Linked DNA regions of Homo sapiens. The protein of the gene in region 2 interacts with the protein of the main gene of each other region in a pairwise test. Each region holds a gene or a part of one and is shown on either strand. Other genes may lie near its edges.

The links. The genes of interacting proteins can lie anywhere in the genome.
Region 1: the proteins of INSIG2 (region 2) and VMA21 interact in binary tests that used the Homo sapiens proteins (3 or more experiments, as listed by UniProt).

What each region holds. Positions count from the first base shown.
Region 1 is NC_000023.11:151,406,655-151,411,275, reverse strand, and holds the end of VMA21 (vacuolar ATPase assembly integral membrane protein VMA21), read right to left. Parts: 3' UTR 1,912-4,621; downstream 1-1,911. UniProt on the Homo sapiens protein: Required for the assembly of the V0 complex of the vacuolar ATPase (V-ATPase) in the endoplasmic reticulum.
Region 2 is NC_000002.12:118,096,301-118,105,480, reverse strand, and holds part of INSIG2 (insulin-induced gene 2 protein), read right to left. Parts: intron 9,063-9,180; 5' UTR 8,925-9,062; coding exon 8,681-8,924; intron 2,285-8,680; coding exon 2,160-2,284; intron 1-2,159. UniProt on the Homo sapiens protein: Oxysterol-binding protein that mediates feedback control of cholesterol synthesis by controlling both endoplasmic reticulum to Golgi transport of SCAP and degradation of HMGCR.

The DNA.
Region 1 (4,621 bases), on a different chromosome or scaffold from region 2:
ATGGAGTCTAAATCTTCCTGAGTGAGATGGGGAGCTATTGGGAGGATTTTGAGCAGAGGCATGGTATGCCTGATCTATTATCTTTAAAGGAAACTTCTAGTTGCTTTGTGGCAAAGTGACCACAGGTGCAAGAAGGGCAGAAGAAACCAATTTGAGGCTCCAGGCGAGGAGTAAATCTGGGCTGGCCCGAAGTGGGAGCATTGAAGGTGGTGAGATGCACACAGATGCAGGGTGTGCCATTTGTAGTATCCCTTCCCTCAGGGCTGCTGGATCCTCTTTTGGAGGAAAGCATCCCTGGGTTGCCAGGTTGCGAACTAATGTTCTCCACCTTCATCCTGTATTTACCAAAAGGGCTAACCTCAATGCATCTTTAATGGACGCAAGAGCAGGGCGTATGTGAAAGGAAGTGCAGGCACGTAAGCAGTGAAAGGTAATGGGGGGCAGGGAAGCCAGAGGGTTAATAGCACAAATGTGCCTAGAAACCATTTCTGCTTTTCTCCATTACCTCTCTGGTTTAGAAACCTCAAATTCACATACTCCTATTGGTTTTCCTTCTCTCCAAAGTCCACAGCAGTGAGGATTCCAAATAAGAAAAAGGCATCACAGGCACAGCAGTGGCCATGTCTATCTACGCACGCCTCAGTTGTGTCTTAAGTTGGCTGTTCCCCGTACTAAAATTTTCATTCAACATCATTCATTAGCACTGAAGCAAAGTCAATATGGATTGTCAGGAACCCAGTAAAGGTCTCCTTATTTTAAATTGCACCTTCGATATAGCATTATCAACATTCTACCTTTGCCTAATAAGGTGTGTGCTTACTTCAGGCTTTATACAAACATCTTCAAGTCCATCATTAAACACATACACTGGGAGGCACAATTCTAAATCTCCAGCAGTAGTTCTCAATCCAGCTTCATGTTGATCACTGCCTGTTCCAAAATTTTTTTTTTTTTTTTTTGAGACAGAGTATTGCTCTGTCACCAGGCTCTCGGCTCACTGCAACCTCCACCTCCCAGGTTCAAGTGATTCTCCTGCCACAGCCTCCTGAGTAGCTGGAACTACAGGCACGCACCACTGTGCCCAGCTAATTTTTGTATTTTTAGTAGAGATAGGATTTCACCACATTGGCCAGGATGGTCTCTATCTCTTGACCTCGTGGTCCGCCGCCTCGGCCTCCCAAAGTGCTGGGATTACAGGCATGAGCCACCACGCCCTGCCCCAAAGAGCTTTCTAGGCCCCCACCCCCAGAGAGTCCGATTCAGAAGGTCTGGGTTACATTTGGGCAATCAGTTATTTTTAATAAATCCTACAAGGTGATTGCAGTAAACTTTCAGAACTGCTGTCCTGTAGTTTCTGCAATGCCATTACCTGTTTCCTGAGTTCCCTGGACATCTCATAACCTATAAAATTTGTTAATACTAAGACGTCTCAAATGTGTTTGGGAAGGGGATATTAACATTTATTAGTAAGAATTAGCTGGAGTCCTCAGAAGCACAGGAAGGAGCTGGAGTGCAATCAACGGGTGATTAGAGGACAGAGGACACAGGACATTGGTCATGAGGGGGTGGCATGTGGACGTCGTCAGGAATTATCTATTTCCACATTTCTCAACTCTCCTTTAGGGGCATTTGAAGCCCACCCCAGACGAAGTATAACCAGCCCTTTACAGCTCAACACCCCTCCCCCACACTCCCAATCAGTTTGAGCATTTCTGGTTGACATTTACTGCATAAAAACTTATCCTTGACAGCTCTCTATATAATCTACATAGCACAAACAGAGGCCAACGAACAAATTTTTTAAAGTGAGCTCTGTACATATTCTACATGTTATAAAATGAGAAGCAGGCAAACAAATTTTTAAAAACACAGCGGTTAATAAAACATTAATTGAATCAGGACACAGCAAAGTAGCACTACAAACACTTTTTTTAATGACATCAGATGGTACATTTATACAAATTACAAGCTACAATATAGTGAATACAAAATCCATCCAGAAAACGGTTAGAAAAGCATCACTTAACAGAAGTAAATCGGATTCAAGTAGCTAAAGAACTCAAGCCCCCCATTTTGATGATTATACACGGCTTGAAATGCAGCACATCCAAATCCTCCCCCTAGTCAGGGCACTATTCAATACTACAGCATATTCAATGACTCTAGTGATGTAAAGATTCTAACACTTTTAGCATCGACGTCAAGAGACATCTCGTAACAGGTTCACTATGCAAAACTCAAATGAGAATGTGTGAACGTTCTTTGCAAACTGTAAGGTGCTGTGCAGATGTTGTTAGCTATTGCTATTATTACTGTTCAGTGAGATTACACTGAACGTGGGGAAAAGGAAGACTACTCTGTATAACTGACAAATATGACTTACAGAACATCTTAAAAGGAATGCAGATATTACTTTCAAATACACATAGCAACAACACAGGCAAGGAAAGTGTGGCCAGGAGTGATGTCGAGGAATTCCTATTTTAAGGAATATATAAAGGATTAAGCTATTCATAGATTATGTGTAATATTTATCATTAGATTCCCAAAGTCCCTGAAAATAATTTATTTTTAAGGTGACCCTTTCCCCCTGAAAAGGGAAAAAGAAATCTTGTCAGGTTACTAATGTGCTGCTTCAGCCAGCTCTTGTAAAAATTATCTTAAACATAGGAGTACAGTCTGAATTAATAGTTATACTAATCTGGTGGGTGACACAGAGTGCTTGACAGCAGAGAAACCTGCCACTGACCTCAGACAAGTGACAAATTCTGTGTCAGAGTTGAACCATAAGTTTACAACTTCACTTGGGCATAAATTAAACAATAAACATGAACTTGTCTAGAGATAAGAAATACACACTAGGTACATCTAAAATCGGATTTAAATCCTTTTTATGTACTTTCGGGTTTCATCTTTCTTTGTATATACCCTACTTGTTTAACTGATTTTAGTGGTCTCCTTGGGTATTCTAACTGTATACATAAAATTGACATGAAAATGGAAAACAAACGCCAAACAAGTCAATTGGTTGTTTCTTTTGGCAAAGCTGATGACATTTTCATGATGAAAATGTTCCAATTATTAGGCCAGGCACGGTGGCTGATACCTGTAATCCCAGCACTTTGGGAGGCGGAGGCGGGTGGATCACCTGAGGTCAGGAGTTCGAGACTAGCCTGGCTAACATGGTGAAACCCCGTCTCTACTAAAAATACAAAAATTAGCCGGGTGTGGTGGCACGCACCTGTCATCTGAGGTACTCAGGGGGCTGAGGCAGGAGAACTGCTTGAACCCGGGAGGCGGAGGTTGCAGCGAGCCGAGATTGCGCCCTTGCACTCCAGCCTGGGCAAGAAGGGCAAAACTCCGTCTCGAAAAAAAAAAAAAGAAAAAAGAAAACAAAATGTTCTAATTATTACAATGTATTTCTGTTAGATTTCCATGAAACATGGGGATTTTTAATGGCAGGTTTAAATTTTTTTTCACTAACAACCCCAAACCAAATTCTACTGTTATATGTACAATGGTATCCATTTGAAGAACTAATGACATCAGATACATTCTACAGCAGACTTTTCATTTCTCAACACAAATGAGAAAAAGGACTACATTCTCCAGGGCCAAACAGGAGGTGAGGAAGGTAATGTGTTACCGTAAATAGGGTTAAATCAGTAGTTTGGACTGACACTTCAAGTTATATCTCCTAACTGAGGTTATTCTTACAATCAGTTTTCAAACAATAGGGAACATATTTCTACCTTAAAACATGTATAAGGGCTCAACTGTAGCTTTCCTTTCTATACATCTTGAAGTATATACATTGTGTAAAAGGAAACTAGTGAGACATTTTGAAAAATAAATCTATTTGCCAAATACCATATGTTATTTAACATAGTTAAAAACAGCAGCAAACTAGTGAGTTAACAGTTAAAACTCTAGGAAAAAACTGCTTTGAAAACAAGCCTATTTTGTTATAAGCCTAAATATCAACCCTAGCATTTGATTTTAACCTTCAAACATTTGGCGCTTTTTCCAAGAGGAAATTACAACTGCCTTTGCATATGCCCCTGGTTTAAATACTTGCAGAAAAATACCCATGTATCATCACCTATTCAGCAAATGCCTGAAACCAAAACAATAATCCAACATTGGACAGTAACATTTTACAAACAGCATAAGATCCCAAAAGCACAAGAAATACCTTGGCATTATATAAAAAGAAATTAGGTGGACAATTCTAAATACAACAATACTTCTTAATTAGGGACCATCTAGAAATCTACCACATACTACCCTAGACTCAAATGTCATTATACTAAAATTGTAGTCTTTAAGCAAGAATTAAAAACAGTTCCATAATAATCATACTGATCTTTCACTTTTCTCAACAGTTAAACACAAATGCTATTTGACTTTTATGACTAATCATCCCTCTATTCCTTTAGTCCAGTTTCACAACATAAAAAATAAATGTGAACAACAAATCGGTAATGGTTTCACATACTTAAGCAAGAATCCTAGTATTAGGATTATCAGTAACAGAAAATTTGAATTTTAAGAGAATAAAGATAGAATGTGCTTATTTAGAAAATGGTCAATAAGGCCGGGCGTGGTAGCTCACGCCTGT
Region 2 (9,180 bases):
GAAATAAACACTCATGTAAAGAGTGGAATTTGGTATTAAATGAGTTTCATGTTTGCTAACTAAACTTAATTAAAAGTCACAGCGAAGTAAGGAGGCTTCCAGCGTAAATAGATATATCAATCTTAAAATAGTGCCATATGGGCCAGGTGCGGTGGCTCATGCCTGTAATCCCAGCACTTTGAGAGACCGAGGTGGGCGAATCACAAGGTCAGGAGATTGAGACCATCCTGGCTAACATGGTGAAACCCCATCTCTACTAAAAATACAGAAAAATTCACCGGGTGTGGTGGCAGGTGCCTGTAGTCCCAGCTACTCAGGAGGCTGAGGCAGGAGAATGGCGTGAACCCGGGAGGCGAAGCTTGCAGTGAGCCAAGATTGTGCCACTGCATTCCAGCCTGGGTGACAGAGCAAGACTCCGTCTCAAAAAATAAAAAAATAGTGCCAAATGATTTTGTAAAGTCTAAGTAACCTAATATTAGAAGTGTATGCTATAAATTTGGTAAACATGTTGGACTTTACTTGAAGGACAACAGGATATCTAAGATTGCTATATTTAAGTATTTCATTGAGAAAGAGAGTGAACAAAGCAAAGAATTTGAACTTATTAAGTTTTTAGAATTTCAGAAAAGGCTATTTAAATTTCTCTACTTAAAAACAAAAATCAAAGTGGAAGTGTCTAAGAGAGAAAGATCTAATCCACCGGACAGAGAGGAACTGACACAGTTTTGAGGTTCCTGGGTAGGAAAATGAGATGTTTCTAGACTTTAGTCAGGCTGTCTCAGGGCTGTTCTCAGCTCTGCTGCAATGTCGCAGTATAAATGACTTAGTAAATTACCTAACCTCTTTAGCTTCTGTTTATTATCTTTACAAAGAAAATGTGGAACTAGGTGATTTCTAAGTTCTCTTCTAGATATAATAGTATATGATTTTAACTTTTTAAGCCCTCCTGACCACTAGATTTTTTATAAAATCTTAAATCTCAAAAAGTTCACCAAAATAAACATGTGGAAATGTCCTCAATACAAACAGAAATTAAAACTAATAATAGCCACTGAGGGACTTCCAAATTCACAGACCTGCAACAGCCAGCACAACTGTGCAGAGGAAGGCAGATGTGTTTTCAGAATCTAGGACCCTGCTCTTTTCTATGGTTTCTGTCCCCAAGCTTATCCAAAACACCTCAATACTTTTTGGGAAAGACACAGGGGTCTACTTGACACATGACCCACCCTCTCTCTCCAGCTAGCTAACTCTGCCTGCCCCAAGTCCAGTGCAGAGTTATAAGAGCAAACTTTTGGCAGCCTGAGTCACACTTCTTGCTTTTCCAAGTACCCAAGGCTCCTGCCACCTTCATTGTCTAAACCACATCTCCTAGAAAAAGACAGGAATAGCATTTCCTAGTTCCTCTTCTACCAAGGAAAGTCAGAGCAAATGAGGAGGAAGTACAAGAGAGGAAATAAAGAGGATGATAGGAGGAAAACCTTATGAGGGCAAACATTTTTTTCTGGGCAGAGAAGGTAGAAAGGGGAAGGGGAATAGGGGCTACCTGAGACACTGTAAAAATACTCATTAACCACTAAATAAAATGTCTGAATCTTCAAACAATAAAACTTTGAAAATATGTACTAGGGTAGAAACTTATTTTTTGGCCAAGGTCTAAGTTGGTATTTCTACTTATGCCGTTTATGTGGTTTGTCGGTATTGATTAAAACCAATGCATCTACCTTTAAAAAAAAAAAGCTTCTTTAAGTTAAGAAAAACAAAAGACAAAATAGCACCTGAAGCTACCACATGTACTTATTAGCAATTCTTAACAAAGAAAGAGAGGAAAAAACTCCTCTGAAAATGTACCTGTTCCATTTTTGGATTAACTACACAAAAGTAATTAAGTAACCAAATTTAAGAAAAACAAGTAAAGTTTTCAAATTTGCAAAGTTTCTAAGTGATAGTGAAAAATACACAATGAAATGAAAGGCTATACCCCACTTTATAATTGCACAGCTGCTACACCGATGTTTCAACAATATGGTTGACATTCTTCTTCTGACTAAGTGGGCATATCATAATTTGACAACAGTGAAGTTGTAAGGGGCTGTTTAACCTTTGGTTTGTTGGAAGCCACTTTGTTATTATGCATTTCATTACAGAGTAAAGGATACAGCACTGGCATGATTTATACCAACAAAGACTGCTACACACCGCATTACACTGGACCACTCTCTTTTAAATTTATGTGGTTCTCCTAGATGTCTGTCAATGCAGGGGTATAATAACCCAATCACAGCTGTAGGGAAAAAAGAAAAAAATTAAGTTACCTCCAATGTTGTACTGGCAACACTTAAGCTAAAAGAATCACTACAACCACCACAAGCATTTTAAAGATTCTTAAAAAAAAAAAAACAAAAAAAAAAGTTATTTCACATCAATCACCGATATTTTTTAACTTACCTTCCAAAGGAAATGAAATGAGGATAACACCAATGAAGAAAGTATTGCAAATGATTACAACAACATTCTAAATTATAATCAACAAAATACTCTTCAAATGTATGATTCACAATTTAGCAGACTGGACTAAATGATTCGTGCTACTAAATGATTCATGCTACTTTTCTACTACTGATACCTACGAGACCTGAAAAAAGTATCAAACCAGTTAGCAGTTAAGTAATGTTCTCTCTAAACTCCAAACCATAAAATATTTATTATATGCCACAAATCTAAGAGAATCTAGAAGTATAAAAGTATACAACAAGCTCATCATACACACAATGTTCTGAAGGTTCTGGCTGGCCTCTTACGTAGATCAGTCTCGCCCCTACCAGCTTCCCGTTTTAGTCTTCAGCATGTAGCACCTTTTACTGACACTCCTTTCCACTCTAGCCCTTTAATGAGGCTGTAGGTCATATTGTCAAAGCAGGAAAACTCACAACAGAAATCTACAGGTAAGACTCATTCTGCACATAGAAACAATGGAGGAAACAAGGTGTAGAGGTATTTAAAATTTTCAGTTAAATTTTAAGTGCACTGTTAGAAGAAGAAATCATCTTAGTACTTCTCTTAGTTTTGGAAAGAACACTTTGAATGTTGTGTCATTAATTATACATAACTGTATATAAAATGTCAATGATTGAGTCCCAAAATATTCTCATCCCTTTCTTATTTCTCAAACCTCAACATTTTATTCATTTAGTGGGAAGGAATTTTAAGTGCTAAATTAGTTATTAAAAAGACTATTTAATGAAAATATTCTAATCTTCCTAAAAACAGGATGATTATGTTGTGCCATTCTGGCAATAAAGACACTACTGTCACATCAGTTGAAAAGCATGTTTAAAATAACCAATACCACTTAAGAGGAATCATGAAATTACAACGCCAAAATCTAAGTGCCTGAGGGACAAGAGGCCCTCCCCCTACCCAGTATTAGCCAGCTGTATCTCACAGGCAATGCATTCACTCTTCGAAGAAAAACAGAAACCAATTAGTATCAAAAATCACAGCCTAGCAGACCAATGGTGCAGCATTTGAAAAAGGCTGTGTGACCACCCTTCTATCTCGAGATGAGATGCTGCAATACTGTATGCATTTTCTAGTCCACAACTCTTTTGAGTTAGGCATGTGCTGAGTATAGATGGCTCACAGAACATCAAGAGATTAAGAACATATCTCGGCAATGCAGAGCTCCAATAACTATTAGTAAATCTAGAAGTTTCACACTATATTCCTATTTAAAAATCTGCTCCAAAATCCTGACAAGATTAACTGACAGGATTTTAAAATTTCTATACAAATAAAATGGCAACAAGCATCCCTAACAGTTGAAATGTAGTTAAACGAATATCACCTCTTTTTTTCTCAAGGGGTCATAAAACTAACAGCTCATTTGTCACCCCCATCCCCCCACCATATATATCCTCCCTTTGCCTGTTGCTGAGTAAAGTCAACTAAGAGCAGACATTCCAAGTCAATTTTCCTGAGCAACTGATGCCTAGGTAAAGAATTATTACATAGAGAATACTGACATGTATGTGCAAAGGTATAAATAAGTAAAATCGACTATATTTTTATGCATGTGATGTCAGACTTGCAAGTGAGAGACAACTGAGGAGAGAAAGCAAAAACACAAAAAGAAATTTAAACTGCCACACTGCCAACCCTGGGATTTGCCAATAAAAATCAAATCCATTGAGTATGCATGGTTCTCAGTTGCTCACTGAGAGGGAGAATTCGAAGAAGCTTGTCACTTCCCATTAAATGTCTTCTTTCTTTCCTTTAAATAAAGGCATGGCAGAGTCTGATAGCAATATATACAACACTGTGAGGTTCCACTGTTTGAGAGCTCAACAGAGTATGTCTGGGCCTCTTTTCCTCTTCTTGTACTTTTTTTTAAAAAAAACAAGAAAGACTGTTAAAATCATGCCTGTGTAAAATCATATGCAAACACAATCCTGCTTATAAATCAAATGGTTCTCTGATGCAAAAATCACATTTCTTGTGATACCTTTAAGTTATTTCCCAGTGACTAGTTACAGTCTACCAAAGCTAAACACTAAAGAAGTTTGTAAAATATCAGTAGTAAGTCATCACTTTTTTATGGGAATGTGCTTAAATGCAGGGAGGCACTAAAAGGAACACAGTTAAAGTCAGACATTTTGTAAGAAAACAGGAACTGAATAAACGAAAACACTCCATGAGGTATACTTCGACGCAAAACTATAAGATAATATTTTCCTTCAACAAATACTTAAGCCCTGACAATATGTCTGGTTCTTGGTATTTGCTGGAGATTTAAAAAGGTAAGGCCAGGCGTGGTGGCTCACACCTGTAATCCCAGCACTTTGAGAGGCCGAGGCAGGCGAATCGCGAGGTCAGGAGTTTGAGACCAGCCCGGCCAACATGGTGAAAACCTGTCTCCACTAAAAATACAAAAAAATAGCTGGACGTAGTGGTGGGCGCCTGTAATCCCAGCTACTCGGAAGGCTGAGGCAGGAGAATCGCTTGAAGCTGGGAGGTGGAGGTTGCAGTAAGCCGAGATGGCGCCACTGCACTCCAGCCCAGGTGACGGAGTGAGACTCCGTCTCAAAAAAAAAAAAAAAAAAAAAAAGGCAAAAGAGTAAGATACGATTCCAATTGCAAAGTGACCACAGAAACAATTAAATACAATCCTGCATTAAGGGCAGCTGACAGGACAGAGGGGTCCCAGGCTTCTCCTTGCCTGTGCTAGGGGAAGGCAAGGTGCTGGGCTGTCAGAAAAGCTTCACGGAAAGAGGTGACCCTTGAGGCAGGAGCATTCAGCAGTAAATGGCGCAGAAATAGTGCTCTCATTAAAGGGAGGTGGCTGAGGACATTCATGGAAAACTGGAAACTGCTGGTGTTAAGAGGAAGCTGTAAGCTTCAGACACAAAGGGAGCTGCAGGGTCCAGAAAGACTCTGAAGAAGAAAAAAGCAGTCAAGGGCCATATTATAAAGACTTTACCCTGCAGACAATGGGCAATCAGGAAAACAATGTCATCACTGTTGTACCAGAGAGAGGCCATCTTCTTAGCAGTGAGGGTACCATACAAGGGGGCTGAGAAAAGGGTGGGTGCAAAACTAGAGGCCGGCAAAGACTAAAGACTCCAAGCACAGCCATTGAGGGATGGACCAAGAAAGAGACAGAGGAAAGATGTAAGACTTGGAAACTGGATGTAGAACGGGAGAGAAAGCAAGGAATCTTACAAGGCTCTACAGGAATAGGGCAAGGGACTGCACAGCTAAACAGGAAAGATTTTTCTTTTCTTTTTACATTAGATATTATTTTCATACGTTTGGACACAACCAGGCTACTTGTGATTTTTGAGGCAACTTCTCTACTTATTTTATCCACACGAGTTGTCTTTTTCTATTTATTCTTTAGAAAGATTTCTTTGTGGCCCTCAATAATGCTGAAAAGATTTCTAATTCCAATTCTGGTGCATGGCACACATAAGGAAGTTAACTTGTAACATCAGCATTATCAAACTAAAAATATGGAATTAAGAAAAAAAAGTCATCAAAATTAGTTTACCAAAGTTCTCTATTAGTTGTCCCACCAGAACCACCACTAGCAAATTTTCCAGGATTGTGCTATAGAGAAAGGTGGCAAATAACAAGGAGCACTTTCTACACACAGAAGGTGGTGATTCTGGAGCCCCTCCAAAAGGTGGCTGCTCTATCTATGAATGTTAGTTGAACAGGAAAATCAAAGGATGATTATCAGTTTTTCTGACTTAAGATGGTAAGACCCTAGCGAGGTCTTGAAAATCCACGCCAACACATATACACAAAAACATATGCATATTACATACACACACAAACTCAAACACACTATGTTTCTTAAATCATTTACTTCTTTTCCCATGATACTTTCCCTAAAATAATGATGCAGGGGATGGCAGAGCAGAGATTTTGAGAGAATCCATTTTCCATCTCTGGCAACTTGGACAAATCTGATATCTTTCACTCTCATCTACTAAACACCATGACTTAACTAACAAAATTGGTAGCAGAATTGGCTGGAATCTAGATTTCCTAATGTCTCTCTACTTTCTTTTGCCCAAGTACCTTATGGTACAAACTGCTTTCAGAAGAAATACTTAAGCAAGAAATGTAAATGCAAATTCCCCAAATGAGGTTAAGTTTGTAAGTGTGACAAACCTAGTGGCTGGGAACAGGAAGGAAAGTAGTGGCTGAACTGTGGTATTAGCATTTGAAATTTTCCTTCCTAAAATGTAAGTTTATGGCAAAAGTGCTGACATTAAAGGGGCAGAAGGACAAGACAGCAGGTGCAGCCCTGTTACTCTTCATAGTGGAGGTACAATGAAACCTCAGTTAAGTTCTCCTGCCCCAGCCCAAATGCACAACACACGCCAGGGAATTCCATCTAGGTCTGGCACCCAGTCTGGAGGCTTGAAAAGTGGCATCCTGAGTAGGGGGAAAAGTGTGAGTAGCTTCCTTTTCCCTTCCCCAGCATGTGACATGTGGACCCAGTCACACCACTCACTGGCTCTGGGACCCTGGGCTCACTGGTTTTCTTTCTTCATCTCAGTGAGTGTCCTCATCTCCCCATAACAGGCACAATGCCAAACATCTCTCTCCCAAAGTTGCTCTACAGAACCCTGGGATTACAGGATGTACCTAGCACATTAGCAGACATTCAATAAACAACAGTTTCCCTTCCCTCTGTTCTATCCTGAAAAGACATGTATGCTCTTCCATGTCCCAAAAAGCTTCTACTGGCAGCCAGACTATACTATAGAAGAAAAGAAACAAAGAACTAGAAAAGTTGTTGAGAAAACGTTTTCTCTTCTGAATTTAAATGAAAGAAAAATGCATGAGGACCAGTACATACAGCAGAGTGATACAATTTAATTTGTTTTTTATTTGGACTATTTTTTGCCTTTTCTCTTGGAGAATGATAACCCTGGGAAACTAAGAATCACTGCCTTCATGACTTCACTTTTAATGTGAACGATGTAATAGTGAGACATCAGTATATAAACACTGAAGCCTTACTACAACAGTGCCCCTCTAACTGTGCAACAGGATTCTATAATTGTCCAGCAAGTTTCACAAGGCCATTCTAACACTTCCGTAAAGCGCAACCTCATCCTTCAACCTCCCGCTCTTGGATGGAAGCCAAGAAGGACATATATTATGTTGCAAGATATTCATTCATATATGTTAAGTATGAGACACCAAATGGGTATTTAAAAAGCAATTTTCTCCTTCAATCAGAATTATCTTCTACCACATGATTATGGTTTCCTTTTATTACTTTATTATTAAAAACAGTATTAATCTATTGGTCTTGGTCATTAGAAAACACTAAAGTGCTATCCATTGTGGAAGTATGGCAGCAATAAAGTATTGTGAAATGCTCTACTCTATGCATTACACACTGCCCACCACCAAAAAAATATCTAAAGTAACTAATAGGATACTAATTTTAAGCAAAGAGAGTCTACCTTATAGATGTCTTTAAATATTTATTATTCTAAGGTACTTATAAAAACAAGATACCAAGGAAAAAAGCATTTACAAAAATACAACATGAAGCTTTAAACTTTAATTATTCAAGTTTTTATTACTTCAGAAACAAGACTACAGCACATGCATCAAACCCTTAAAACCAAATGGTGGTGCTCATCATCCAAATAACTTAAAATAACACTTAGATGAGATGGGTTGAAGAAAGAACAAAATTAAGGGGTTAAATGCTTCATCCCTAAGGGAAACAGGATTGTTTTTCAGAATTAAATGTTAAAAGTTTACAGGACAGATAGAATGAGACAGAAGGGAGTACATACGTTATGAGCCCATTTATATTGCATTCTAGAACAGAGATAAATAATTTATGGCAACAGAAAGCAGATCAGTGGTAGCCTGAGGCTGGGGGTGGGGAATGGACTGCAAGAGGACACGAGAGACTCTGGAGGGTGATGGAAATGTTCCACAGCTGGATTGGCAGTGGTCATGTGACTGTACGCATTTGCCTAAACACATCAAGTTGTTCAATTCAAACGGGTCCAGTGTATTATACCTAAATTATATCTCAATAAATATATTTTCTTTTTTAAAAAGGTTTATTGCTCAGACAACGTCCATACTCATTTACCCTATTTCCTTTCTAAGCATTACAGAAACATCCTACACATACCTGAAGCCGTGCCACAGCATGGGGGTACCCACCATGCAGAAGAAAAGATGCTTGCAATCACATCAGGTGGAAAGAGCGTCACATTTCTCTGAATCTGAAGTAAATTTAACACTAATGCAAGAAATACTCCAATAAAAAATAGCACTACTCCTCGAATCATCAAGTTCACACTCTGGCTAGTGACAGATGAAATATATGGGCCACACTTTTTGGGCCCAGGTGACTCTGTCTCTCCTTCTGCCATGGTTTCATAGGTTCAGAAAGCCGTTAAAAAAAAAAAAATGGAAAGGCTTCCCAGCTGAAAAGCTCAACTGTCTGTGAATCAAAGACTGACGCTTCAACGGTACCACATCTTGTCCTAAAGTAGGACCTACCAGAAATCCTGCAAGAGATAAGAAAAAAGAAATTAATGTGTATCTAATACATGATTATTGTAATTTTACTGATTTCAATACTAGTTAATTTAAATGGACAAATAAGAAAATGACAAGCTTGTATAC